3 separate regions of the Homo sapiens genome follow, and regions 1 and 2 are each linked to region 3. Evidence: fine-mapped expression QTL. A gene starts in region 3. Each other region holds a variant in brackets. All regions are shown on one strand. Distances are from middle to middle.

What was found. PIP is the estimated chance that this variant, and not a neighbour inherited with it, causes the effect.
Region 1: its variant is fine-mapped to the expression of CDC42EP4 in whole blood (TOPMed, PIP above 0.99).
Region 2: its variant is fine-mapped to the expression of CDC42EP4 in whole blood (TOPMed, PIP 0.95).

The regions. Positions count from the first base shown.
Region 1 is chr17:73,284,889-73,294,640 of GRCh38, forward strand. It overlaps CDC42EP4 (CDC42 effector protein 4), which reads right to left. Exons shown (of 2, transcript NM_012121.5): 2 at 1-1,724. The coding sequence starts at 1,612. The coding sequence ends at 542. Among named protein-coding and RNA genes, the nearest start is that of CDC42EP4, 22 kb to the right of the region's middle. RefSeq lists enhancers at 6,038-6,257, 6,548-6,627, 6,602-6,896, 6,880-7,761, 7,028-7,097 and 3 more. The variant G/A (reference allele first, on the strand shown) is at 4,563.
Region 2 is chr17:73,367,260-73,377,011 of GRCh38, forward strand. It overlaps SDK2 (sidekick cell adhesion molecule 2), which reads right to left. Exons shown (of 45, transcript NM_001144952.2): 37 at 1,148-1,334. Among named protein-coding and RNA genes, the nearest start is that of CDC42EP4, 60 kb to the left of the region's middle. The variant C/T (reference allele first, on the strand shown) is at 4,682.
Region 3 is chr17:73,306,958-73,316,709 of GRCh38, forward strand. CDC42EP4 (CDC42 effector protein 4) reads right to left here and starts at 5,044. Exons shown (of 2, transcript NM_012121.5): 1 at 4,936-5,044. RefSeq lists silencers at 3,793-3,922, 3,933-4,482, 4,933-5,192, 5,263-5,422.

The DNA of each region.
Region 1 (9,752 bases), 22 kb before region 3:
GGCTCCAGATTTCCAGGGCAGGAGCTGGGGTGGGGCAGGGAGGGGCTGAGAGGCAAGACCGTCTCCCTCCTGCTGCAGCTGCTTCCCCAGCAGCCACTGCTGGGCACAGCAGAAACGCCAGCAGAGAAAATGGGAGCCGAGAGTCCTTAGCCCTGGAGCTGAGGCTGCCTCTGGGCTGACCCGCTGGCTGTACGTGGCCAGAACTGGGGTTGGCATCTGGCATCCATTTGAGGCCAGGGTGGAGGAAAGGGAGGCCAACAGAGGAAAACCTATTCCTGCTGTGACAACACAGCCCTTGTCCCACGCAGCCTAAGTGCAGGGAGCATGATGAAGTCAGGCAGCCAGTCGGCACCCATGCCAGCCCCCTACGTCCTCCGAAGACCCGAGGGCCAGGCCAGTGTCCCTCATCTACAAGGTCCAGGGTCCATGGTCTGAATCAAGGGTCCTGGCTGCCCCTGCGCCGTAGGGTCAAAGGTCATAGTGGGGTGGGGGCAGGGAGAAGATGCAGCCAAGAGCTCCCGGTGGCCACCCACTGTCCGCCTCACACACGGATTTCATCCTCCTCCTCCTCATCCATGAAGGAGAACTCCTTGTCTGGCTGTCTTGAGACAGCAGCCCGGGCCCTGTCCGGCCCCCGGAAGGCAGGGCTGCGCTCCTCCAGGATGCCTGAGGTGCAGCTGGAGAGGGAGCTGCTGTCCCGTGTGGTGTGGCTGCCCATGCTGCGGGCTGAGCCGGGGCTGGGGGCCGCTGCTGCCCACCCCTCATCCTCCAGAGCATGGGAGGGGAGGGAGGGCAAGTCTGGGCCAGCCTTGCCTTCCTGCCTTGCCAGGGGAGGGGCCGCCACGGCGTACGGGGGAGCCTGGGTGATGGTGCCAGCGGCGCCCTCATCGCCATGGTAACCACCCTCCCCCTCCTCGGGGTCCCACTCCTCCTTGTCCATGATGCTGAGGACGTCACCCAGCATGGAGGGCCCCAGGTCGATGTGGAAGGACATGATGGACTCCGCATGCTTCAGCCCGTACGTGGCCTTGGGCACGACAGGCAGATCTGTCAGATCCCCAAAGGCCTGCTCATCGAGGAGGGGGTCAGGGGAATGTGGACCCGCGGCCCCATTCCGACGGGGCACTGCCTCCTCCGTGCCCGCCTCCTCATCGCCGCCCTCCCCGTCATTGGCCTTCTTCACGGGGCTGGATGACAGGCTCTTGGGCAGCTTACTGGTGCCCTTCTCCGCGGCCTCCTTCTCATTGAGCTGGGGCAGGGACATGGCATTCTTGACAAACAGGGCCGAGTCCCGCAGGGAGCCCAGCATGTCACGCTGCTCCCGCTCCCCCCTGGTCACCGACTGTGACCGCTTGCTGCCCCGGAACTTCCTGGACAGGAGACTGCGTTTGGAAGATGAAGAAGAGGGCTGTTCGTCCAAGGACTCGCCGTCGGGCTCGCCAGCCTTGCTATTGAGGAAGGAGGTGTCCCCAAAGGCGTCTCCGGCCCGGCCAACGTGCATGGTGTGGCGGAAGTCGCCCAGCGGGGCGCTGATCATCTCGGCCGTGAGGTCCGCTCGGGAACGGCGCTTGGAGTGCACCGAGCTGGACACCAGTTGCTTGAGGATTGGCATCTTGCTGGATGGGCGGGGAGGTGGGCCCTCCCGAGGTAGCCGGCAGGTCTGGGGTCAGATCTGAAGTCCAAGTCCAGTGGGCAGAGGGGGACGCAATGAGGAGATCATAAGGCTGCAAGCAGAGAATGAGAGGCAAAGGATTAACGCGGGCTGGCCACACGGCACAAAAGCCTCTTTGCCAGGGGACTGTCATTTAAACCCCAGCGCTCCTACCAAAGTTAAATGCTGTGAAATAAGCCAGCAATCCATGGTATAACCCTGCCTGTTTCTTCATCCGCAGGCATTCAGAGTAGAGGAGTGATTTTGCAAATCTGGTTAGAGTTCCAGTAGCCTCGGACACACTTTCCCTGAAACTTGAGAGAGACAGAACCTTTCTTGCAGAAGACAATGCCTCCCCTGCCCCTGCAAGCCAGGATGCTGCCAGAGTAAACATGACCACATTTAAGGACGCGAAGGTAAATCCAGCAATTCCAGGCAGCAAGCCAGGGAAGAGATGGAGTCTATGAGTTGGCTCCTATGAACAGTCAGCCTGGAGATGTGCTGTAAGTTCTTCCTGCTGTCTAACCTCGATCCCTGTGGAGTTAGTGGACACCCCACCCTGAGTCCTGGTCCTCAGAGAGAGAAGGGAAAGGACAGGACGGGCTCAGGGAGACAGAGGCTGACCAGCTCCTCCCCCTGCGTGGGCGGCACAGTCCTCTTTCTGAATCAGAACTGGGGTGGGGCTGCTGGGACCCACAGAACCAGCTCCCCAGCCTTTCAGCCTTCGCTTGGTATCCCATAAATGAGGATCCCGCCTGTGACGTCTCCACTGTGGAGCCCCAGGCTCTTTGCTGAGGGTCCACCTTCTGGTGTCTCGGGGAGATCAAGATTGGGCAACTTCCAGTTTCTTTCATCATTAGGGGAGTGGGAGGCAGGGACTGGACCCTAAATGACTTCGTCCCCCCAGGATCTGCAGACTGATTCCTAGGTGATTCACCAGAAATCCAAAAAACAGCAGAGGTAGAGCCCAGGAGCCTGGAGGCACCACTCTCACAGCTCCTGACAAGGGCCAAGTTGAAGTTCAGCATTGGGGCCAAACCAGCCCCTCTCTTCCCTAGAGGGGCTTGCCCCAAATACTAAGCCCAGCAGAGCTGGGCAGGTTGGGGAGAGATGGGTGCAGGGATTTAACAAAGTATGGTGGGTGAGAGGTGATGCTTGGACACCAGGTACCTGCCTGCCTCCCAGTCCAGCCAGCAGCACAGTTCTGAGAGGCACCCCCAGTCCAGACCCACTCTTCCCACTGCAAAACTCAGATGCTGGGTGCTTCCTCCGCATGCCTGCCGCTGCGTCACACAAGCCCACCACACCCCACCTGGCCCCTGACATCAGCCTGACAGGTCTCCCTGTTGGTCTCCCTCCTGTCCATCCTTCACCTCTTGGCTAAAACAAAACCCATCCACATGACGCCCTACCCAGTGCAGACCCCTTGATCCAATGACTAGTCCCCACCTCGCTCCTCAGTGTCCCCTACTTTTGTACCCTGATCTATCCCCTGAGCTGCAGTGGATACAAACAGTTCCCCAATGCAACCCCTGCCACACCCAGCATCCTTCAGGGCTCAGCTGGGACACATCACTACTCCCAGGAAACCTTTAGCCACCACCTGCCCCCCACGGCACTTTGGGAGATGTCCCCTCTTCCAGCAGATACTGGCTACATTATTCTGTCCCTGCTGGCTGGACTCTCATCTTCCCACTGCAGTACAAACTTCTAGGGTTTTGAGGCAGATTCTCGCCCTGTCCCCCAGGCCGGAGTGTAATGGCATGATCTTGGCTCACTGCAACTTCTGCCTCCCGGGTTCTAGCGATTCTCTTGCCTCAGTCTCCTGAGTAGCTGAGATTTACAGGTGCACACCACCACGTCCAGCTATTTTTTTTTTTTTTTTGTAATTTTAGTAGAGATAGAGATGGAGTTTCACCATGTTGGTCAGGCTGGTCTCGAACTCCTGACCTCAGGTGATCCACCCACCTCGGCCTCCCAGTGCTGGGATCAGGACGTGGGATCAGCGTGAGCCACCGCGCCTGGTCCATCCAGAGGGTTTTAACAGGTCTGTTTACCACCGAGTCTGGTCCAGCAGGGTGTGACACATGGTCCGCCTCCAACCGCCTCCAAGCACCCACTGGAAGTCCAGCACCTCCCTCCTCTCCTCCCCTTCTGCCCACAGCCTGGCTCCAGGGCTCCCAGCCTGACCTCTCTGCATCCTCACCCCCATCCGCTTCCCTGTTCTCTCAAGCCTCTGCTGCCCAGCCTCATGGCTTCCCCCACCAGCAATGTCCCCCCTCCCAGTGCCCACGCCATACCGCTTATCATTCCAGCAAACACAAAGTTCTCTCGGGCAGGGAGGGGGAGCCAGGCACCTGGCAGACTTGCCACACAGTGACGTGGGCGAGGACGTGAGGGATGCCTTGAGATGATACTCTACTCTGGGTCATAGGTCAGCTCTCTCTCCTCCCTACCCTTAGGAAAGTGACCTTCCCCTAACTCTAACTTGGATTATCTCTGGGCCCCACCCTCCTGCCCCACCTCAACCTCTAAACAATTAGACATTGAACCGCTAGACCAAAGGTCAGCAAACACTTTTTGCAAAGGGCCAGAGAGTAAATATTCTCGGCCTTGTGGCTGATAGGGTTTTTGTCACAGCTACTCAACTGTCTTCTTAGTATAAAACTAGCCGTTGGCCGGGCACAGTGGGTCACAACTGTAATCCCAGCACTCTGGGAGGCTACGGCAGGAGGATCAGTTGAGCCCAGGAGTTCCAGACCAGCCTGGGCAACACGGTGAGACCCCATCTCTACACAAAATCAAAAAAAGAAAGAAAGGAGCCATAGCAACATGTAAACAAGTAGGCATGGCTATGTTCCAATAACATTTTATTTACAGACAACTTCTGGGTTGGTGAGCAGATCGAGGT[G/A]CCAGGAAGGTGGTGCGTGCCCTGCCCCCCACCCCAACACTTGACCCCACGCATCCTCATGCAGCTCTTCCGTTTGGCTGTTCCTGAGTCGTATCTTTTGTAATAAACCAGTAAAAGAAAAAAAACCACCAAAAAGCCACATCTTTATTTACAAAAGCAAACGCAGGCTGGGTTTGGCCCATGGACTGTAGTTTGCTGACTCCTGAATATCATATATGACCCTCTTGGCCAGCCATGGGCTCCTAGGCAAAACTCTGAAGAAAACAGGAAGGGAGGAAGGGAGGGAGGGAGGAAGGGAGGGAGGAAGGGAGGGGAAGGAAAGGAAGGAAGGAAAGGAAATAAGGAAAGAAAAAAAGAAAGAGAGAAAGAAAAAGAAAGGAAAGAAGGAAAGGAAAGGAAGAGAAGAAAGGAAGAAAGGAAAAGAAAAGCAAGGAAGGAAAGAAAGAGAAAAAGAAGCAGCAGAAGAAAAGAAAAAGAAAAAGAGAAGGTAGACTCTGCCTCAGTCACGTTGGGCATAGAAGGGAAAAAGGCCAAGCTTCAAACGAACTCTCGTTCCTGGCAAATCCTTCAGGCTTCTACTGCCACCAGCAGGGACACCAGTCAGGAACGGAGGGGACCCCATCTTCCACCTGCCTGCACCCCGACTCCTGGCTCTACGCACAGCATCCAGGAATCTCAAAGAACTGGAGGGGATATTCAGTGCAGCACTTTCACTTTATGGATGAGGAAACAAGTTTATTGAAGGAAAGTGATTTATCCAGGTTTTTAGCCCAAAGCAACAGAGCTGGGCTAGAAACTGGGTCTTTGAGTCCAGAGCTCTCTCCGCTCCACTCCAGGCCCTTCTCCAGCTCTGGCGGCGGCATTGCTGGTCAGTGACCACCGACCACTGAGTGCTCCTCCCCACTGCTGGCCGGCAGGGTACAGAGAAGGGGGTACCCAACAGCTGCTTCAAGAAGGTTCTTGTGTAATCCTAGAGCAGGTTCCACACTGTTGCTATTTGGGCCAGATAATTTCTCATCGGGAGGTGGACCTGCCCTGTGCACTGTAGGATATTCAGCAGCATCCCTGGTCTCTACCCATTAGATGCCAGTAGCATCCACCCCCCAGTCACAACAAGCAAAACTGTCTCAAGATATTGCCCAATGTCCCCCAGGAGGCAAAACTGCCCCAGTTGAGAAACAGCAGCCTTGAGTGAGAACACACAGGTGAAGATAGAGCAGGTATGCTCACCAGGTAAACAACAAAGACAGAGAAGCAGGGAGGCGGGTGTGGATGGTCAGAACCGGGTGAGAACATGGCGGCACGAGCCCCCAGAGCTGCGTTAAGGGTTTCAACGCCAAGGCAGGAACCCCCAGACCCTGTGAGTGATGTCAGGTCCTGTGGTTTCCCGATCTTATACGCTCATTAGAGAGGAAAGAAAGGGAAACCACAGACCCGGCTCCCCAGGACTCACCAGAGAAGCTGCAGGTCACTGTGGCTGCCCAAAGGGACCAAATATCCTGGCCATGATGGCTACAGGGGAGGACAGCTCCCCGCATCCCATTAGCCACACCACCCAGCACATCCTTGCGGGTAGAACTATTGAGGTAGGTCAGAGGGGACAGCAGGGAAACTCAGCTGAAATCACGGCCATCCTGGGCTAGCCCTGGGGTCCCCAGGATCTTGTTCAACCCCACACCCCAGAAAGACAGGGACAGGTCTACCCAGTGCTGCCTGCTGCCACGGTCTCGCTTCCTGGGGGGTTGGGAACGAGACTTTGTGGCTTGTAGAAAGCCATCTTCAATAACCAGCAAGGAAGGGTCCTGAGAGAGTTGGGGCCTAGAGGGAGTCACGCATCTGTCCCACTGCCCCAGCGAGGAGGGGGCTGCAGTACCTGGCAGTCCACACTGGGGATGAGGCCTGGGTGTCTGGAGCTCAGACTAGACAGGCCACCCAGCAGGATTGAGGGTCAGCAACAGCTTGGTTTCACCAGCCTTGAGTGACCTTGAGTCACTCTGAGCTTCTAACAGAGAACAGTTTGGAGGTGACGAGCTGGATCATAGAGTTTAAGAGAAAGTAGGTGGTGGGAGTCTCGCCAGAGGCCTGGGCAGGTCCTGGGGGCAGCTATGGTTTGGGAGGCCACAGGGCATTGTGGCTTTGGGCGGGGCTTTCAGAAGCATGGTGACTCAGCTCTGGGGAAGTGGCTAAAATAGGCTGCCCAACGTGGGGCAGGCACTCCCCATAGCCTGCCTTGGGCGGGACACCCCCACCCCACCCCAGAAACCACATCCCACTTTCTTGGCAGGGAGAGGGAAAATGGATCACAGCTCACAGCCCTCCCTAGCTCTCCTGAGCCTCCGGAGGAACAGATTCCTCTACCCTCAGCCCACTGACCACGGAACCTTCCTTTAAGGTGGGAACGAGGAGCCCTCCCCAGAAGGTCAGGCCCCTGCTTGGGTCACAGCAACCACACCTTTAGTTCAGCCCTGTTCCTGAGACTACGGAAGACCACCCTTGCCTGGACCCCTCGCCTATCCTCCCTGGCCCTCCCAGCTTGGCCAGCCCAGCAGACCCAGAGCAGAAGGACAGACGGGACCAACACTTCTCACTCCAAGTGACCGGGCAGTGGCCTGTCCCTGGCAGCTTGGCTTGAGGCAGGCGCCAGACCTGAGCTCTCATGGGGCAGCTAGGCAGGCCTCGCTCTCTGAAGCTGCCCTGCGGTTCACCCCGGTATACAGGGTACACAACATGCCTCAATGCCCACTGCCACTGCCTCCGCCACTGCTGCTGGGCAGCATGCCCTCTGCAGGGCCTTCCCCTAGCTGTTCTAACCAACCACCCGATGCCAGGTCCAGGCAATGTGGCCGAATAGCAGAGGGCTTTTAGTGCACGATGACTTTAGTTGTGACCTGGATCGGCTACAAGAGGCTTTGTTCCATTACTCATCATCCAGTCACTCACTCCATGACTTCCTGCAGACCCACTGATATTCACAAACTCTTCTAGGCCCTGGAGATAGAGCAGTGAAAATAGCACGCTGTTTTCCCAGGGCACGTGTGTAGTGTGAGTGTGGGGGGTGGGGGTGGGGAATGGAGGTGTAAACCTATAAATAAAATAAATGGTATCTCATATTCCTCAGTATAAGGAGGGAAAGGGGTGGTATGAGTGGGTGTGGGAGTCAGGGGGTCTGGGGGAGGCCCCTCTTGAGGAAGGAGCATCATGAGTTGAGAACCAAATGATGAGAAGGAACCAGCCGGGTCAGAAGCGACCCAGGCAGAGGGAACGGCGCGTGCAAACGCCGGGGTATAGGAACAGGCTTGTGGCATTTATGGAATAGAATAAAAATCCATGCAGCCAGGGCCCAGGTTACATAGAGCCCTCCCTACCAGGCCACATAAAGAGTTCTGTTTTGTTTTTAGTTTTTATTACAGGCACCTGCCATCATGCCCAGTTAATTTTTGAATTTTTTGGAGAGACCAGGTTTCACCATGTTGGCTAGGCTGGTCCTGAACTCCTGACTTCAGGTGATCTGCCCGCCTCGGCCTCCCAAAGTGCTGGGATTACAGGAGCCACTGCTCCTGGCCGATTTTTTTATGTTTTTAGAGATGGGGTTTCACCACGTCGGCCAGGCTGGTCTCGAACTCCTGGCATCAAGCAATCCACCCGCCTTGGCCTCCCAAAGTTCTGGCATTACAGGCATGAGCCACCGCACCCAGCCCAGGTAAGGAGTTTGGAGGTCATTATAGGTGTACAAGGAAACCGGCGGCTGTTTGTAAGCAGGCGAGTGATTCAATCTGTGTATCTGGAAGCTCCCGGAGGTCCTGGCATTGGAGGAATGAAGGAGGGGAGCTGGAATTCAGTCAGGAGGCTGTTGCAGAAATGCAGGTCAAAGAGGATGGAGACCAGGATGTGGGTCTGGCGAAGGGGGACACAGTGGGAGACATTTAGGCCATGTTTTGGAGGTAGAGACACCCGGGATTGTGGAGGGCCCAGACCAGGGAGGAGAGAAAAGACAGGATCAAATGGGACTCCAGGCCTTCCAGGGGCAGCCTCTGGTCCTGGCCATCCTTTCCCAGGTTTTGCCTGGCAGGCCACGGCCCCTTCTCACAGGAGGGGCTGACATCCTACCCCTAGGCGGAACTTCACTTTGCCGAAACACAGGTGGCATTCTGCTACACAAGGCTTGTCAGATGGAACAGCACGCTGGAGGGGGTTGTGCAAGAGGCTCACTGGGACATGGGCCACAACTCTAAGAGGTGAGGGACTCTGGCTTTAGTCACCAGAGAAAAATCCAGTACTTTCTGGAACACTCACCAGCCTTACCCTGCAAAGATAGGAAAGCACAGGGAAGGCGGAAGACTGTGTTTCATTCAAACTGTGGCAGGGCTGAGGGCAGCTAAGTGAATGGGCGAGAACAGTGACCGCTTAGATACACGTGGTTACATGTTCCAGGCAGGACTTCAATGCCGACTGTGTTGTGATTTTAGCTGACTTTAGTATTCTTGGGGATCTTTTAACTCCTTCATGTGCCCTGCTCAAAAGCCCTTGCATCTGGAAGTGTGCTGCGTGCGCAAGGAGGTTAAGGCTCACTGCTGTAATATTCTGAGCCTAAGTAACCACAATCAAAAACCAAACACAAGGCCGGGCGTGGTGGCTCACACCTGTAATCCCAGCACTTTGGGAGGCTGAGGCGGGTGGATCTCCTGAGGTCAGGAGTTCGAGACCAGCCTGGCCAACATGGTGAAACCCCATCTCCACTAAAAACACAGAAATCAGCCAGGCATGGTGGTGTGCACCTGTAGTCCCAGTTATTCAGGAGGCTGAGGCAGGGAGAATCGCTTGAACCCAGGAGGTGGAGGTTGCAGTGAGCTGAGATCGCGCCACTGCATTCCAGCCTGGGTGACAGAGCAAGATTCTGTCTCAAAAAAAAACAAACAAAGAAACAAAAAAACAAACCCAGGATGGGAACATGAAATGTCACCATCAGGACTCCTGTACCATTTATGTATCTGTGTCAAATATCTCCTTAAAATACCTGGGTGTGGAGGGATCATACTTTCAAGATGGAAAGACCAAATTAAGGGACTTGCCCTAGGTCATGGATTGAAGCCAGAGTTTAATTCCCACCCCAGGGCTCCATTCACTTAAACAGCAATGTACTATCAAAAGTAGGGGGCATCACAGGACAAACACTGAATATGTAATTTGTGT
Region 2 (9,752 bases), 60 kb after region 3:
CGGCCTCCCAAAGTGCTGGGATTACAGGTGTGAGATACCATGTGTGGTCCATTGTACTTATAATTAATCCCAATCCCAATCCCCCAGCCTGAGCTCTCGCCCCATTTTCCTGCAAGCCACCTGGCTTTCTCTGCGTTCCCGGGTTCCTCTCCAGCCCCTAGGCCTTAGCACCTGCGGTTCCCTCTGCCTGGAGCCCCCAGCACCCTCTGCCACCTCCTGAGAGCATCTCATGGCTGGCCTCTTGTCTTTTTTTTTTTTGGGACAGAGTCTTACTCTGTCACCCAGGCTAGAGTGCAGCAGTAGCACAATCTCGGCTCACTGCAACCTCCACCTCCCGGGTTCAAGTGATTCTCCTGCCTCAGCCTCCCAAGTAGCTGGGATTACAGGCACGTACCACCATGCCTGGATAATTTTTTATATTTTTAGTAGAGACAGGGTGTCACCATGTTGGCCAGGCTGGTCTTAAACTCCTGACCTCAGGTGATCCACCTGCCTTGGCTTCCCAAAGTGCTGGGATTACAGGCGTGAGCCACCATGCCTGGCCCCTGCCGGCCTCTTCTCATTCAAATCTCACCTCCTCAGGGAGGGCTTTGTGGGTGAGCCTATCCAGAGCCATCCACCCACTCCTGCCTCACTCTTAGGTCACCTGTGCTGACCCCCGTCTGCATTTACTTCATCAACTTGCTTATGATCTGTCCCCCGCACTAGGGTGGGGACCTTGCTGGTCTCACTGTTGTGTCCCTAGCATCTAGCATGGCACGGGCTCATAAGACACTCAGTATTTGTGGAATGAACAAAGCCAGAGAGACAGAGGGAAGGCAGGTGGGAAGAAGGCAGGGAGCAGAAGTAGGCTGGCTGGGAGGGGCTGGGGGTGCTGACTGTCCGTCTGCAAGGCGGGGCAAACGGTGGGGAGGACAGGGATGAGGTGTGGGGGTTTCTCAAGGCTTTATGGGGACAGCTTCTCTTTTCTGAGAATGGGCTCTCCCACTTGGGAGGGTGTCTCTGGGGACCTGGGTACCACGACCAGATCCTCAGGCGGATAAGGCAGCTGCCCCCATGCCTGCCAAGAGCCCGGATGCCAGGTAGGTCCTCTTGCAACCCCCCGTGGCCGACCTACCCCTCCCCTCCTCAGGGCCCCCTCTCCCACCTGCTTGCTGGGTCTGGCCTTGGGTGGGGGTGCTCCGAGGCCCATCCCCAGCGGCGTTGAAGGCGGCCACGCTGACCATGTAGGCCGTGTAGCCAGTCAAGTTCTTGAGCTTCACGCTGTTCTCAGCCAGGAAAAGCGTCTTCACTCGCTCTGTGAGGTTCCCCCGCTGGGCTTCCCAGAAATAAATCTGTGGGAACAGAAGGATGTGGGAGTGAGGGGGACAGGGGCAATGAGAGTCCCTCCTGTCCCTGCTGACCTGTAGTCTCAGAGACACCTTCATTGCTGTGAGTCACCTGGGAAACAGCGGAGAAGTCTTTAAGAGGCCGGGTGCGGTGGCTCACACCTGTAATCCCAGCACTTTGGGAGGCAGAGGTGGGTGGATCACTTGAGGCCAGGAGTTCAAGACTAGCCTGGCCAACATGGTGAATCCCCGTTTCTACTGGAAATACAAAAAAATCAGCCGGGCATGGTGGCAAGTGCCTGTAGTCCCAGCTACTCTGGAGGCTGAGGCAGGAAAATCACTTGAACCTGGGAGGTGGAGGTTGCAGTGAGCTGAGATCACGCCACTGTACTCCAGCCTGGGTGACAGAGCAAGACTCCATCTCAAAAAAAAAAAAAAAGAATTTAAGAACTGTTTTAGAAACCTTTCTGGAACCTTCCTTTTCACAGCCAAGACCCTGGTCTCTGCCAGACAGTAAACTCCAGGGCATGGCCCCCAAGTGTCTGTGTTTCCCGCCATGCCTGGAGGATTTACCATAGCGCTGGCACATCAGCACTTAGTACAGTTCCTGGAGGAATAAAGCAAATCCGTCCTACGGGAGGCTGAGCTGGGGAGATAAGGCAGTGTGGAGTCTATCCAGACAGAGTGTGGTGCAAGTGCTGGTGGCCTCATGTCACCTGGGAGCTGGTGAGGGATGCAGAGTCTCAGGGCCACCCCGGGCCCGCTGCACCAGCAGCTGCTGGTTAACAGGAACAAGGCCCGCTGCAGAGGAAGGCCTCGGCCAAGACGGCGGGCAGCGGGAGGCTGAATCCCAGCTGCACCGCATACAGCAGCGGGACCTGGCCAGCTGACTTCCCAGAGCTGCAGTTTTGTCGTACATTCAGTGAGGTTAAGGACACGTACTTCCTGGGGTCCGTGTGAGGGGTGCAGGTTCTAAGGGTTTCACCCAGGTACTTGGCCAGTTTCCTAAGGAACCCCGTGGCTGCAGAAGGCTTTAGGCCAGGAACACAACAGATGCTCCCTGGTGTTTTCTCTTCCTTTCTGTTTTTTGAGATGGAGTCTCGCACTGTCACACAGGCTGGAGTGCTGTGGTGCGATCTTGCTCCGCCTCACGGGTTCACGCCATTCTCCTGCCTCAGCCTCCCGAGTAGCTGGGACACAGGCACCCGCCACCACGCCCGGCTAATTTTTGGATTTTTAGTAGAGACGGGATTTCACCGTGTTAGCCAGGATGGTCTAGATCTCCTGACCTTGTGATCCGCCCGCCTCGGCCTCCCAAAGTGCTGGGGTTACAGGCGCGAACCACCAAGCCCAGCCATTGTTTTCAATCATTTCCTCTGTAGCACAGGTTAACACTTCTGCTAGTTCCAGGACTGAGGCCATCCAGATAGCGGCCAGCTGGGCCCAGCCACGTGCAAAATTGGAGGTCATTTGGCGCCCCCTGCTGGCCAATGAGGTTTCTGCATGTCACCGGCTTTTCAATTTCTCATTTCCCTGGAGGAAGCCCATAAAGTGAGAAAGAGCTAATAAAAGTGTCCCCACTGGCATGTATGGGTGGCAGTTAGGACATCTTGTTACCATGAAATCCTTGCTTTTCTCCAATCCCTCTCCCCCTTTATTATTATTTTTTTATTTGAGACAGGCCTCACTCTGTTGCCCAGGCTGGAGTGCAGTGGCACGATCACAGCTCACTGCAGCCTCAACCACCTGGGCTCAAGCCATCCTCCCACCTCAGCCTCCTGAGTGGCCAGGACTACAGGTGTGCACCACCACACCCAGCTAAGTTTTTAATTTTTTGTAGAGACGGGGTCTTGCCATGTTTCCCAGGCTGGTCTTGAACTCCTGGGCTCAAGCGATCCAACCACCTTGGCTTCCCAAAGTGCTGAGATTACAGGTGTGAGCCACTGTGCCCGGCCCTCTCTCCCATTTTATTTTATTTTATTTTATTTCAAGACAGGGTCTCATTTTGTCACGCAGACTGGGGTGCAGTGGCATGATCTTGGCTCACTGTAACCTTGACCTCCAGGTTCAAGCAATCCTCCCGCCTCAGCCCCCCAGGTAGCTCTGACTACATGAGTGCTACCACACCTGGCTATTTCTTTCGTAGAGATGGGGATTTCTTTTGTAGTGATTTCTTTTTTAGAAAGGGGGAGAGGGCCGGGTGCAGCGGCTCACACCTGTAATCCTAGCACTTGGGAAGCTGAGAGAGGGGAATCGCCTGTGCCCATGAGTTCAAGACCAGCCTGGGCAACATGGCAAGACCCCTGTCTCTACTAAAAACACAAAAATTAGCCAGGAGTGGTGGTGTGCACCTGCAGTTCCAGCTACTTGGGAGGCTGAGGCAGGAGGATGGCTGGAACCCGGGAGGTGAAGGTTGCAGTGAGCTGAGATCACACCACTGCACTCCAGCCTGGGCAACAGAACAAGACTCCATCTCTAAAATAACATAAAAATAACGAAAAGCAGATTCTTCTCATATGGATAGATGAATGAAAGCAGAGGCAGTCATGTATGAAATCATTCATTCACTCATGCATTCATACTAATGGGGGTACAACAGTTAACAAAGTTCCTGTTGGATTTGGAAAGGTCATGGCTGATGCTAAAAGTTTGCCATTATTAGCACACAGGTGGTCTTCCGTGAGTGCACACTGGGAGAATGAATGGATTCTCTTAGGTAGAGAAGAGGGCTGTGGATTGATCCCTGGGGGCCTCCAGCATTCAGTGGTTGGTGGGGAGGAAGAGCTAGCGAGGGAAGCTGAGGAAAGCAAGCATTTTGAGAGGAAGGAGAGATCCATGTGTCAAACACAGCTGCTGAGTCAGGCAGGATAAGCCTGTGGTTTGACTCGATATGAGCAACATGGGAATTATTAACAACTTTGGCAGGAAGAGCTTCGGTGGGGTGGCGGGGATGAGAACCTATTTGGAGCGAGTTCAAGGGAGAAAGAGAGCAGAGGAATCGGAGGGAGTGAGTACAGAAGATTCTTTTGAGGAATTCTGCTGTAAAGGGGCCAAAGAAATGGGTGACAACTGGAAGAAAATGTGAGGTCAGGCCAGGTGCGGTGGCTCACACCTGTAATCCCAGCACTTTGGAAGGCTGAGGCAGGTGGATCACCTGAGGTCAGGAGTTTGAGACCAGCCTGGCCAACATGGCGAAACTCTATCTCTACTAAAAATACAAAAATTAGCCGGGCATGGTGGCGGATGCCTGTAATCCCAGCTACTCAGGAGGCTGAGGCAGGAGAATCACTTGAACCCGAGAGGTGGAGGCTGCAGTGAGCTGAGATAGCACCACTGCACTCCAGCCTGGGCAA[C/T]GGAGCGAGAGTCCGTTAAAAAAAAAAAAAAGTGAGGTCAGGAAAAGGCATAAAAAGAGGAAACATATCTCAGAATGCTTTTCTGCCCTGCCCGTGGGAGCTATCCACTGGGGAGGTGGAGGAGAGGAAGGGCCAATGGCTGCAGTCATGCTCTTGGGTGAGGAGTGGGTCGGGGCCTAGAACCCAGGGACAGCTGTCTTCACAAACCAGGCACTCCGGCAGGTGCATCTTGTTTGTGAGCGCTGCATTCTGCGGACCTTTGTTAGCTGATGATTCACAGTGAGAGGGACTGACACGCGTGCAAAGGACATAAAGGGACTGAGCCCAGATCCTGGTTCCCATGGGGCACACTGCTGAGCTGCATGGGGCACATTGATGGGTAACCAGGAGTCTGCCAGAATGCAGGCTCCAGCGGGCAGGCATCTCGGTCCATGTGGCCCCCTTGGGACCCAAACACCTAGAATCATGGCTGGCACATCCATGGTCCTCAATCAATATCTGCTGGATGAATAAATGCCTTATGTGGACAGGGGCAAGCATGGGAGTGCACCATTATAATCACGAACCTGCCATTTACTATGCCCAATTCTCTGCCCTTTCATTTCTTTTTTCAGCTTTATTGAGGTATAATTGACAATCTAAGATCTATATATAGCCGGGCATGGTGGTGGGTGCCTGTAATCCCAGCTACTCGGGAGGCTGAGACAGGACAATCCCTTGAACCTAGGAGGCAGAGGTTGCAGTGAGTGGAGATCACACCACTGCACTCCAGCCTGGGTGACAGAGTGAGACTCTGTCTCGAAAAAAACAAACAAACAAAAAAATCAAAAAACAAAAAAACCCCAAAAAACTGTATGTGTTTAAGGTATACAACATGGTGTTCTGATATACACATGCATTATGAAATGATTACCACAATCAAGCTAATTAACATGTTCATCATCTTTTTGTGGTGAGAACCTTCTGAGCAAATTTCAAGTGTACAATACGGTATCATTAACTATCATCACCATGTTGTACATTAGATCTAGATCGTATTCAGCCTGCTTCACCGAAACGCTGTATCCTGGGACCTTCTCCCTATTTCCCTCACTCCCTCAGCCTCTGGCAACCGCTGTTCTACTCTCTGTTCCTATGAGTTTGATTATTTTAGATTCCACATATACGCGAGGTCATGCAGTATTTGTCTTTCTGTGCTTGGTACATTTCATTTGGCATAATATCCTGCAGGTTCATCCGTGTTGTTGCAAACAGCAGGATTTCCTTCAAGGCTGGATGGTATTCCACTGTGTATAAACCACATTTTCTTCATTCATTCATCCATTCACAGACACTCAGGCTATTTCCACATCTTGGCTACTGTGAATGATGCTGAAATTAACATGGGCCTGCAGATAGCTCTTCAAGAGCCTCATTTCAATTCCTTTGGATAAATACCCAGTAGTGGGATTGCTGGATCATTGGAGTTCTATTTTTAATTTTCTGCGGAACTTCCATACCGTTATCCATAATGGCTGTACTGATATACGTTCCCACCAACAGCGTGCAAAGGTTCCCTTTTCCCCATACGCTTACCACCACTTATCTCTAGACTTTTTGATAACAGCCATCCTTGCAGGTGTGATGGGATATCTCACTGTGGTTTTGATTTGCATTTCCCTGATGCTGAGCGATGTTGAACACCTTCTTAGATACCTGTTGACCATTTATATATCTTCTTTTTTCTTTTTTTTTGAGTTGGAGTCTTGCTCTGTCACCCAGGCTAGACTGCAGTGGCATGATATGGGTTCACTGCAACCTCCACCTCCTGGGTTCAAGCGATTCTCCTGCCTCAGCCAGGTGCCTGCCGCCATGGCCAGCTAATTTTTGTATTTTTAGTAGAGACGGGGTTTCACCATGTTGGCCAGGCTGGTCTCGAACTACTGACCTCAGGTGATCTGCCTACCTTGGCTTCCCAAAGTGCTGGGATTACAGGCATGAGCCACCGTGCCCAGCCTATGTATCTTCTTTTGAGAAATGTCCATTTGGGTCCTTTGCCCCATTTTCTTTCACTTTTGTTGTATGAGTTCCTTACATATTTTGGCTACTAACCCCTGGTCATATGTATGGTTTGCAAATATTTCTCCCATTCCAGAGGTTCTCCCTCCTTCTGGAAGCATGTTCTTCCCATGAGCTCTGAGACATCACTCAGTTTTTGGTTTCAGGGCTCAATTTGTAGACTTCTTTTGTTCTTTATCTTTCCTTGTCTAATCTCTAGCTTTCAGTACCATCTATATGCCGAGGACTCTATAATTCACATCTCTGGTTTGATCCTTCTCTCTTGAACTCCAGACATGCATCTCTGACTCTGTTCTGTCTCCCCTCGAATGTCCAACAGACGTCTCAAACCAAACACATCTGGAACCAGACTCCAGATTTCCCTAGCCTCCTCCTTCACCAGCTTTGTCTTTTCCTGCTCCATCATCCTGTGGACCCTGGGGCTGTCCTTGTTGCCTCCCTTTTCTCCCATTCCATGTTCGATTTGTCGGTAATTTTTTTTTTTTTTGAGATGGGGTCTCGCTCTGTTGCCCAGGCTGGAGTACAGTGGCGTGATCTTGGTGCACTGCAACCTCTGCCTTCTGGGTTCAAGGGATTCTTTTGCCTCAGCCTCCCCAGTAGCTGGAATTACAAGCATGCGCTACCATACCCAGCTAATTTTTGTATTTTTAGTAGAGATGCGGTTTCGTCATGTTGGCCAGGCTGGTCTCGAACTCCTGACCTCAAGTGATCTGCCCGCCTTGGGCTCCCAAAGTGCTGGGATTACAGGTGTGAGCCACTGTGCCCAGCCTGATTTGTTAGCAAATTCTACCAGCTCTGCTGTTGGGACTAACTGAGAGTGGCCACTTCTCACTCTGCTCTCACCTGATCTGAGCCCCCTTCATGGCCCACCCGGATAGTTCAGATGCCTCCCCATAGCTTCTGGGCTTTCCCCATTTCAGACTCTGCTCAGCACAGCAGCCAGCGGGACCCTCTGAAGGTCCCAGTCCTCCACTCAGAGGACTTCACTCAAGAGTGACAGCCAAAGCCCCGAAGGACCCCAGGTGCTCCAGCCCCGGCTTTCCCATCTCCCATTGCGCTCCCTGGAACTCACTCTGGGGACACACAAGGCTCTCCGTATACCCCAAGTACCTGTCTACCCTGAGACCTTTGCTCTTTTTTCCTCTCTTTCTGGATCCATGTGATTTGTGCCCTGTTCTCCTTCAGGTTTTTGCTCAAATATCACCTTCTCATTAAGTCCTTTCCTAACAACCTTTTTTTTTTTTTTTTTTTTTTTTTTTTTTTGAGACAGTCTTGATCTGTTGCCCAGGCTGGAGTGCAGTGGTGCAACAATGGCTCACTGCACCCTCACTCGGCCGGGCTCAGGCACTCCTCCCACCTCCCACCCCGTTGGCTGGGACTACAGGCATGTGCCACCACACCCGGCTAATTTTGTTGTTGTTTTCTTTTTGTAGAGACAGGCTTTTACCATGTTGCCCAGGCTGGTCTTGGACTCCTGGAGTCAAGCAATCCACCCACCTCGGCCTTTCAAAGCGCCAGGATTACAGTTGTGAGCCACTGAGCCCAGCCCTTAACAACCCATTTAAAATTTCAAACCCTGGCTGGGCACAGTGGCTCACGCCTGTAATCTCAGCAATTTGGGAGACCGAGGGCGGATCACCTGGGGTCAGGAGCTCGAGACAAGCTTGGCCAACATGGTGAAACCCTGTCTCTACTAAAAATACAAAAATTAGCTGGGCATGGTGGCAGGCACCTGTAATCCCAGCTACTCAGGAGGCTGAGGTGGGAGAATCACTTGAACCTGGGAGGCAGAGGTTGCAGTGAGCCAAGATCGCACCACTGCACTTCAGCCTGGGTGACAGAACAAGACTCCATCTCAGGAAAAAAAAGAAAGAAAGAAATAAAATAAACTAAACTAAAATAAAATAAAATTTCAGGCTGGATGCGCTGGCTCACTCCTGTAATCCCAGCACTTTGGGAGGCCGAGGTGGGTGGATCACGAAGTCAAGAGATTGAGACCATCCTGGCCAACATGGTGAAACCCCGTCTCTACTAAAAACACAAAAATTAGCTGGGCATGGTGGCAGGCACCTGTAATCCCAGCTACTTGGGAGGCGGAGGAAGGAGAATCGCTTGAACCTGGGAGGTGGGGGTTGCAGTGAGCTGAGATTGCACCACTGCACTTCAGCCTGGCGGCAGAGCAAGACTCCGTGTCAAAAAAAAAAAAAAAAATTCAAACCTCCTCATGGACCTGGCTCTCCCCTAACCTGCTTCATTTACCACCACCTGGCGGTATTATTTATTTTGCCCCGTGTTGGCCTTCCCTCCCTAACATCTAAGCTCACAATGCTGGGCACACAATAACTGCTCAATAAACACGTGTCATTGACCAACTGAAAGACTGGAGCTCTCAGAACGTGCATGAATGTGCCTGCCACGCACCAGTTGGGTGCAGTCTGACTGGAATGCAGTATCAGCTTCGGTGTGCTCATGGGTTGATGAAGTTAATGCGTCACTGATGTTCGTGCGTGTTGATGTCAGTACCTTGGTTATCACAGGTCCAGGAGGTAGCACTTTCTCCGTTCACATCCACAGTTGCCGCTCAGGTACGGGTCATGTTTTCTGGAGCATGTAGGCCTCTGCTGTATTCTGTATGGTGTTGTGCACCTGCACATTTTCCTGGGTCTGTCTATTAACTCACCACTTACAAGCCTCGACAGTCTGGTGGCTGCCACACTGCTGCTGGCGCTGCCCTGGCCCCTTTCTTTTCCCATGGGAGGCATATGCTAGGGGGGCAATATTTAGTTTTCCCAGCTGGTGCTCCTGGGCAATGCCTTGAGGGGTGTCATCCATCTTTAGGGCTTCCTTGGCAACATGCCTTTCCTCCTTCCTTCCTCCTCCTTCACCCCAGATGGAATGAGACTCTTATGCTGGATTCCATCCTAAATCGGGACTACCTGTATTAATGAGCTGTGTGACTTGGGTAAGCTCTTCCCCTTTGCTGACACTCCTCCCACCTGTGGGATGAGGTGCC
Region 3 (9,752 bases):
CAGACAACCTCTGCTACCGTGATGGCCAAGGCAGAAGATGGTGGCTGAAGCAGCTCTGGCTGAGCACAGACATCCAGGGATCCTTCTTGCCTGGCACTGTGGTTTTTCCAGATGCCTTCAGCTCCATCTTTGGGGTGAAGGGGAAACACCAGGTGTGCAGAGCAGTTTCTTACAGGTGGGGAACTGTAAGCCTTCATTAATGACCACACCCTAAACTGTGCTCACCTGAATCCCAAAAGAGAGACCCTTCCTCAGCTTGAGTGGAGACAGCCAGTTCCCCTGTTCCTGGCAAGGGAGGGCTTTGGATGCCAGCACTGCCATCCTGGCACAGAGCCCAGAGCTGCAAGCTGGCAGTGCCTGGGGGAGACTCCAATGTAAGTTAGTTGGAAGGAAGCCCAAGTCTCCTCAAGAAGGCGTATTTTAAGCTGGAGCTTTCGGGGCACGGTGAGCGGGAATGTGGGAGACTAATGTCTGAATTTTTCTTTCTTTCTTTTTTTTTTTTTTTTTTTAGACGGAGTCTCGCTCTGTCACCCAGGCTAGAATGCAGTGGCGCGATCTCGGCTCACTGCAAGCTCCGCCTCCCGGGTTCACACCATTCTCCTGCCTCAGCCTCCCAAGTAGCTGGGACTACAGGCGCCCACCACCAAGCCTAGCTAATTTTTTGTACTTTTTAGTAGAGACAGGGTTTCACTGTGTTAGTCAGGATGGTCTCGATCTCCTGACCTCCTGATCCACCCGCCTTGGCCTCCCAAAGTGCTGGGATTACAGGTGTGAGCCACCACGCCTGGCCCTGAATTTCTCTCTTTTTTTTTTTTTTTTTTTTGAGATGGAGTCTCACTCTATCGCCCATGCTGGAGTACAGCAACCTCCACCTCTTGGGTTCAAGCGATTCTTGTGTCTCAGCTTCCCCAGTAGCTGGGATTATAGGTGCACGCCACCATGCCCGGCTAATTTTTGTATTTTTAGTAGAGACGGGGTTTCACCATATTGGCCAGGCTGATCTCAAACTCCTGACCTCAAGTGATCTGCCCGCCTTGGCCTCCCCAAGTGCTGAGATTACAGGCGTGAGCCACTGTGCCCGGCCCTAATGTCTGAATTTCCTTCCCAACGCACTCAAGCAAAAAGGGCTGTGTCCAGTGCCACATGCGGGCTCCTTCCAGCACTACCATCCAGTTCCCTGCCGAGAGAGGGCACGCATGGGCTTGGCCTTCCTAGAGCACCCCAGAAGCACTGGCTGGAGTTGGCCTTCAGGACACTCTGCCGGATGACCCCTCAAAGTGTCCCCAGCTCCAGAATTTGGTTCTTTTCCTCACGGTCGGGAAAAATCCTCCAGTACGTAGGTCAGAAGAGCTACGCAGAGCTCAGGTCAGCTCTGTTTCCAGGGCGAGATTGCTCAACCCTTCTCCCTCCGCCCACAGGCCTTATCTCTGGCATCAACCCAGCTCCCCATTCCTCCAAGGGACGGACTCCTCCCTCCCCCCACAGGGACAAACTCCTCTGAGTCTGCAGAACCAGAATGAGAACACAGAAGGCTGGACTTACTGCTAACCAAGTGCAACCCTGACCACTCTGACTTCTGACTTCTTCACTTCGAACCCAATCCAAACGTAGGGGCGTGGGGTGGGGGAGAGTGAAAGGGAGAGGCCAACATCAAACACCTTTTGGCCACACCTGCGCACAGACAGTCCGGGCCGCAGAAATCAATCAGTCACTCCAAAGGGGTGGAAGCCCTGGGCCACTGCCAACCCAAGGCCCTTCTGGAAAAGCTCTGGACTTGTTAAGAAGGGTTGGCCAGGGCTGGGTGCAGTGGTTTACGCCTGTAATCCCGGCTCTTGGGGAGGCCGAGGTGGGTGGATTGCCTGAGTTCAGGAGTTCGCGACCGGCCTGGGCAACACAGTGAAACCCTGTTTCTACTAAAATACAAAAAAAAATTAGCCGGGCGTGGTGGCATGCACCTATAATCCCAGCTACTGCAGAGGCTGAGGCAGGAGAATTGCTTGAACCCGGGAGGTGGAGGATGCAGTGAGCCAAGATTGTGCCACTGCACTCCAGCCTGGGCAACAGAGCAAAGCTCTGTCTCCAAAAAAAAAAAAAAAAAAAAGGGTTGGCCAGGTGCAGTGGCTCATACCTGTATGCCCAGCACTTTGAGAGGCCGAGGTGGGGGAAGATCCCTTGAGCTCAGGAGTTCAAGACCAGCCTGGGCAACATGGTGAAACCCCACCTCTACAAAAAATACAAAAAATGGCTGGGCGTGGTGGTGGGCGCCAGTAGTCCCAGCTACTCAGGAGGCTGAAGTGGGAGGATAGCTTGAGCCCAGGAGGTCCAGCCTGCAGTGAGCCTTGACTATGACGCTGCACCACAACCTGGGTGACAGAGCAAGACCTGGTCTCAAAAAATTAATAAATAAAATAAAAATTATTTTTAAAATCAAAAGACTGGTGTAAGATTCCTCTCCCAGGTCAACACTCACTCCCCTGACCTTTATACATGAGACCTCCCTTTGCTTCTGACTCCTTGGTCTCTGGTTCTGTGAGGTGCTGTCGGGTTCCAGAGGCAGCAGCACAGTGGAGGCAGGGTACAGAGGATGGGGACAAGCACGGTGGGTGGGCAAGGGAAAGAGAGAAACGAGGGGAAAAGAGAAGAGGAATCCAAAAAGAGAGAGGCAGAAACCCCAGAAAATGGAGAATCATTCACAGCACAGGCCTAGGCTGTACAGCAGAGCAGGAGCAAGCTGCCCTCTGTGTGCAGGGACCCTAGGACTTCAGGGAGATTTCAGAGGGGAGGCGCTGAGACTCACCCCAGAACCACCGCCCATATGATCACAGCGGGCCCCTCCTAGTCCCTGCAGGGGTCCACCAGGATGCCTGGGAATCCACTTGGGATCTCCCCAAATTCACTGAACACCCCTTGTGGGAAGGAGCAGCTGTCTTCAAGGAGTGGAGAGGCAAAGTCCAAGTTCAGAGGAGATAAGCCACCCCACTAATCAGTCAGTCACATGTGCAGCTCACACAGGGCAGTTGATGAGAGCAGGAACCGGCAGGGCACCCCCGCATTCAGTAGGCACTGGCTTCTCAGCAGAGATAGAGCCTCAGGAGATCCTGGTGGATGCCCTGTTATTGCCCCAGGAGCCCCTGGGGCTGCCAGGGGCTCTCTTAGGGCCTGGCTCAGTCCCAGCCAACTCCCGATTTCTGGGAGAAATCAGAAATCCGCAGCTCAGCAATCCCTTCCTTTGTGGCCTGTTCTTTGTTCTCTTAAAATTCAGTCCACCCTGCTGGTGGTCCCTCCTCCACCCTAGCCTCAGAAGCGGGCGGGGGCTGAGGGAGTTATTGGAAACCCAGACTGCCAAAGAAGTCGCCTTGCAGGAGGCCCCTGTCACCGGCCCCTCATTATTTACACTCGCTGGATGGGACATTTCTCTGGTACAGATGGCTGCTGGGGTTCGGACGAGAGAGAGATTTTCCCTCCAGCACCCTGGACCCTCAGGGGAGGGCAGGGGGCTTCGCAGCGACGGGGGCTCCCAAGGACTCCACCCGGATCCAGCTGCTCAGCTATCTGGGCAAACAGTGGGCACCGGGCACACAGTAAGGGATGTGGGAGCCGGTCAGATTGCAAGGGGTGGGAGTCGTGGAGAGAGAGAAGTTCCAGAGGCAACGAGAAAAGAAAAGGCATTGTATTTCCCCTCCATTCTCCCAGGGAGAAAAAGAAAACTTCCAAAGCCGAGGCCGCAGTCACTGGGAAAACACAGGGAACCTGGTTTGAGTTAGCAGCGAGCACCCCTCCCCCAGTCACACACACACACACACACACACACACACACACACACACACACACACACACGCACTTCAGTCCTCTCCCAGGAAGCTGGCTCAGCCTCAGCCCCGGCTCCCGCCCAGCTCTCCAGCCCTCCCGGCCGGGGCACTCACCGGCTGACGGGATCCCCGCGGGCAGGATGGCTCCTGGGGGACGCGCCGGGGGCAGGGGGCAGTTTTGTAACCCCGGCTGGGGGCGCTCCGGAGAGGGGGCGGGGCCAGGGACGGCCGATCCGCGCGCACCCGCCCCAAGCGGGCGATTAAATCATTAACCGACCGCTCCCGCCTGCGATCCCGCTGAGCGCGCTGAGCTCGGGGCGCACTAGCCCAGGAGCGGCCGTCTCCCCGGCTCCAAGGGGGCGGGTGGCTCGACTGCCCTCCCCCCGCACCCCGCCAGGAGGCGCCTCGGCCTCCCGGGCTTCCGAGGGAGCGGGCGGGGCGGGAGCCTGGCGGGGGAGGGAAGGGTTCGCGGGGCGGGAGTAGGGGAAAGGAGGACCATTTGTTCCTTCGGCCATTCCCTTCCAGACAGCTCCTTCCCTCTGGCTTCCCGGCCGGGTGACATTGGGTGGCGTGTGCTGCAGTGTGTGTACGAGAGCGAGATGTGTACACGCCTCTGCCCGTACAGGCGGAGAATTCGGTTCTTATTCATGGAGAACTCCGGGCGCACACACGCCCCCCTCGCGGAGATCGCGGGCCGCGCGCCGCCGATTGCTGCGCTCCTGCCCACACCGACACACACCCCATTCCTGGGAAGGGGGAGGCCCTTTAAAACCGGCCCCCAACCCCCTCAGCGGCACCCTTGGCCAGGGCCGGGAGTTCCAGCGTGGAGAGAGGAAATGGAGTCCCGGCAACGCTGCGCCCGGCTCCCTGCCACCTCCTCCTCCACACATCCCGCTCTGCCAGGACACTAGGTGCGCAGCTTAGGGTCCCAGGCACCGCGGTGGGCGCGGTGAAAAGCGCGAGCGCCGAGAAGTGGGGGCTCCGCGCCCTTCTCCCCGCGCCGCGGCCTCGCATCCCCAGCTTCGATCCTCTCTGCCCCACAGGGGGACTCGAGACCCCCAAGCCCACCCAGGGCACCCAGCGCGAAGGCGGCTACCACAGACAGAGGCGGTTGCCCGTCGCCTACCTCGGTCCCCGGAGACCCGAGCTCTGGGCCGGCTGCGCTGTCCCCTTCGTGGGCTCCGCGCGGCGGAGGGGCTGGCGGCCCCTGTCAGCGCCGGCGTTTGTTTCCCTCTGGCTCTCGGGCTTTCAGGGCTGGGAGCCTCCAGGACACTCCCCTTCCAGGCTCCGCCCGCGCCCGCCCCGCGCAACCCTCCCCGCGCACCCCTCTGCGCTGATGTCACGGCGCCGCAGCAGCCAATGGCCGTCGGGAACCTCTGCCCGACTGCTCGGCCTCCTCGGTTCAAACTGAAAGCCTGAGACTTTCCCAACTCCGTATGGGGCAGCCTGGGCCCGCCCGGCTTCCGGGAGACACTCCCGCCCCAGCCTGCGCTCCGGCCGCGAACCCCCACTGGGGCCCCCAGGGCCAGGGGCGCGTCTCCCTCCGGGGGCCTGGCGCGAGGCTCTTTTGAGGCTCTTCCCCATTCGAGCCGGGGCAAGAAACCAAGAACTCCAGCCCGGGTGGCGTTCCTCGTTCCTGCTCCCTCCCGGACCTGCTAACCACCTGGCTGCAGTACTGTCGGGAGATGGGGCAGGAGGGCTGGCGCCACCAGCTTCGTGGGTGCCATCCCAGACTCTCGCTGTAAACGAGGGAGCGGGGAGGAGCCGGCCAGCCCCGAGGCCAGGCTTGGACTGGGCGTCAGAAATGTTTCTACAGGGTGACAGCCCTTGAGCTCCCCGCATCCCCGTCTGTGCCTTTGCCTCCTAAGTATCAGCTGAGGCTAAATTTGCACCAGGTGAACGTCAAGGAGGATCAACTCCTGAGTCCCAGAGCCTGAATCCAAGTCCCAGGCCTTGGACTCTATTCTTTTTAGAGGAATAGTTTCAGTTGAAATGATCATTATCAAGGTAGAATGCCAGCTGCGAAGTAGTCAACTAAAGTGGACAAGGCGCAAAGTGAAAAGTTCCCTTGCCTCTAGCTGAACCCCACCCTCGGTTTTTAAAGGAAGTGAGGGTGAAGGCCCCAGACTTTCCCCATGGCTGCGAGGTCCCTAAGCCCTCAGGAACATTCTGCTTTCTGGGGACAGCACATTTCCGTTTCCCTCTGCAGTGCGACAGCAACCAGCTCTTGAGAGCTAATGGTTTGGCCACTCCATCCTGCTGTGAAAATTAAGTTCTGGGCTGGGCGCAGTGGCTCATGCCTGTAATCCTAGCATTTTGGGAGGCCAAGGCAGGTGGGGGGTCACTTGAGGTCAGAAGTTTGAGACCAGCCTGGCCAACATGGCGAAACCCCATCTCTACCAAAAATACAAAAATTAGTCGGGCATGGTGGTGGGCGCCTGTAATCCCAGCTACCCAGGAGGCTGAGGCGGGACAATCGCTTGAACCTGGGAGGTGGAGGTTGCAGTGAGCCGAGATCGCGCTATTGCACTCTAGCCTGGGTGACAGAGGTAGACTCCATCTCAAAAAAAAAAATAAATGAATAATAAGTAAAATCAAATTCTGAACTGGACATCTGGAGGGAAAGGTAGGGTTTGGAGCCACTTGGGAGGCAGACACTGTGGATTCAAACCCTGGCGGGGTTATCATGGATGTAAACCAAAAAGTGACTAAGGCAGATCTCAATCAAATAGAGGTTTAGTTAGCCAAGGTTGAGGATCCACCGGGGAAAAATCACCTTTTTTCCAAAAAGGTTTTGGGAACTTCTGTATTTAAAAGAGAAAAAGCAAGCAGGAAAGGAAAAGAAGAGGGAGAGAGGGAGGAAAGGCATTGAGGTCACAAGCGTGTGAGGCTCTGATTTAGTGTCTGTAAGTCTACATTTTACATGTGAAAGGGAATAGAAGAAAAAGTCAATGATGCATTGTCTCCTACTCAGTACGTCTAAGGGGAGCAAAGGAAACCCTGTGTCAACAGGGTTGTGAAACTGCAGCTATCTGGGAACAAAAGGAAAGCAGCTTCTGTGGTTTCCAAGCTTAACGTCCCCCCCAGCCCCGCCCCTTTTTTTTTTTTGGAGACAGGGTCTTGCTCTGTTGCCCAGGCTGGAGTGCAGTGCTGCAATCGTAGCTCACTATAGCCTTGGCCTCCTGGGCTCAAGCGATCCTCCCACCTCACCCTCCTGAGTAGCTGAGACTACAGGTGTGCGCCACCATGCCCAGCTACATATTTTGTACTTTTTCTTTTGTAGAGACAGGGTTCTGTCATGTTGCCCAGGCTGGTCTCAAACTCCTGAGCTCAAGCAATCCACCCACCTCAACCTCCAAAAGTGCTGGGATTAAACTTTCCCTTTGACATAGTGAATTTGGGGTCCCGAGATTCTATTCCCTTTCACATGGGGAAGTCGCTAATTCCCACCTCTGACCCTTAGCTAGCCTGGCTGTCCTTATGTGTCCAAAGAGCACAGGACCCCTCTGCTAGCCTCGTCTGGAGGGTGTAAAGAGGAATGAGATATCAGGTGTGAAAGCGCTTTATGACTAGAAAGCAACCAGAATGGAGGTGATTGCTGTCATCATGACCTAGTGCCAAAGGTGTCCTCAAAAGAAGTAGGAGCTGCAACAGGACTGTGGGTAAGGCTCGCTGGATAGAGGTTTGGAGACGCCTCTGGATTGGAATTCTAGCTCTGCCATTTATGAGCTGACAAGTTATCCACCAGCTTCCCCATCTGTAAAGTGAGAACAGCAATCTCTACCTTCCCCTATTGGGGTGAATATTAAAAGAGATCACTTAGGCTGGGCGCGGTGGCTCATGCCTGTAATCCCACTGCTTTGGGAGGCTGAAGCCAGTGGATCGCTTGAGCCCAGGAGTTCAAGAGAAACCTGGCAACCTGGCGAAACCCCATCTCTACAAAAGTATACAAAAATCAGCAAGGTGTGGTGGTGCATGCCTGTAGTCCCAGCTATTTGGGAGGCTGAGATGGGAGAATCCACTTGAGCCTGCAGGTTGAGGCTGCAGTAAGCCAAGATCATGCCACTGCATTCTAGCCTGGGTAACAGAGGGAGACCCTGTCTCAAAAAACAAACAAACAAACAAACAAAGGCACCTGGCCATTTGCTGGGCATATGCAGGCCCTCAGTGGGTCTCCTTCTACCACATTGCTTCCAGGTGGAAGTCCTCCCTGGTTCCTGGCGTTCCAGGACCTCTTTCTCCTGAAATCATAGCTTAAGTTAAAAACAAAAACAAAAAAAAAACGTTTCTTATTTTCTCTGAGACATCTCCCTCTCCCCATCTCTTTCCTTCCATTTTAAATGAAGTATTTCGGTTTTCTTAGGGCTAGCTGTTAGTAATCTGTTTTCCTTTTCCCAATTATCATCCATATCTATTAAGCACACCTCCGGGACAAAGTCTTTAGGTCCCTTTGTAATTCTGCTCCTTACCCAAATTCAGGCTCCTTCCACAAACATTTAACAACAGTGGAGGCTTGCCTTTGGGGACAAAGACAACGAAGCCCAGTCCCTGCCCTCAGGACGCCTAGAGTAGAAACAAACTGCTTCAGGGAGGGGCTCCGTAGATGCTTCTAGACTGCATCCTAGCCCTCTGAGGGAAGATGTGATTAGAAGATCATTTTCTTTGATGGTGGGAATCCCAGACCTGTGGATTTCTCTCCGAAGGATCCACTGAAGCAAGTTTTGCTCCAACCCGTTAGGCTAGAGCTGTCTATGAGTAACCAGAGGAAATTAACAAAATAAAAAATCTGAGGCTTGAATACATACCTACTTGAAATTTCTGGCAAGCTCTAAGCCCCTGACTTTGGAGAGGGATTTGAGGTCTTAACTGCACCCTTGGTGTAACTTGACCTGTAAGCCTTTAGGCCTAGGCGTGTGTCTCTGCCTGTCTGGGGCCGCTGGGGCCTGCCTGCCTCTGGGACTTGGGCATGCATGATCCTTGCAGCTTCATGGACTTGCCCCTCCCTAATATCCACCCCCAACCCCCAACACATATTAGGTAGATGCAAAAGTTATTGCGGTTTTTGCCATTACTTTCAATGGCAAAAACCGCAATTACTTTTTTGCACCAACATACCACATCCCAGTGTTTGTTAACATGGAGTTCTGGGCATTTTAGTTCATGTTATTTTGTCCCAGCTCTAAGAGGTTAATTAGTCCTATTTCCTTTTTTTTTTTTTTTTTTTTTTTTTGAGACGGAGTCTCGCTCTGTTGCCCAGGCTGGAGTGCAGTGGCATGATCTCGGCTCACTGCAAGCTCTGCCTCCCAGGTTCACGCCATTCTCCTGCCTCGGCCTCCTGAGTAGCTGGGACTACAGGCGCCCGCCACCACGCCCGGGTAATTCTTTGTATTTTTAGTAGAGACGGGATTTCACCACGTTAGCCAGGATGGTCTCGATCTCCTGACCTCGTGATTTGCCCGCCTCGGCCTCCCGAAGTGCAAGATCACAGGCGTGAGCCACCGCGCCCGGCCAATTTGTCCTATTTCCTTGGAGGGGCTGGAAGTTCCACTCATTCCAGTCTGGTGTTTGTCCTAAAGTATGACTCTGGGCAGGTCATTTCTCTTCGTGAAATAAGCTATCTCCCCAAGCAAGAACACTACAACTTTCTATGTCTATTCCCCTTTTTTTTTTTTTTTTTTTTTTTTTTTTTTAGGATTCTTGCTCTGACGCCCAGGCTGCAGTGCAGTCCGCAATCTCAGTTCACTGCAGCCTCCGCCTCCTGGGTTCAAGCGATTCTCCTGCCTCAGCCTCCTGAGTAGCTGGGATTATAGGTGCCCACTACCAATTAGCCAATTCCTGGCTAATTTTTTTTTTTTTTTAGTAGAGGCAGGTTTTACCCTGTTGGCCAGGCTGATCTCGAACTCTTGACTTCAAGTGATCTTCCCTCCTCTGCCTCCCAAAGGA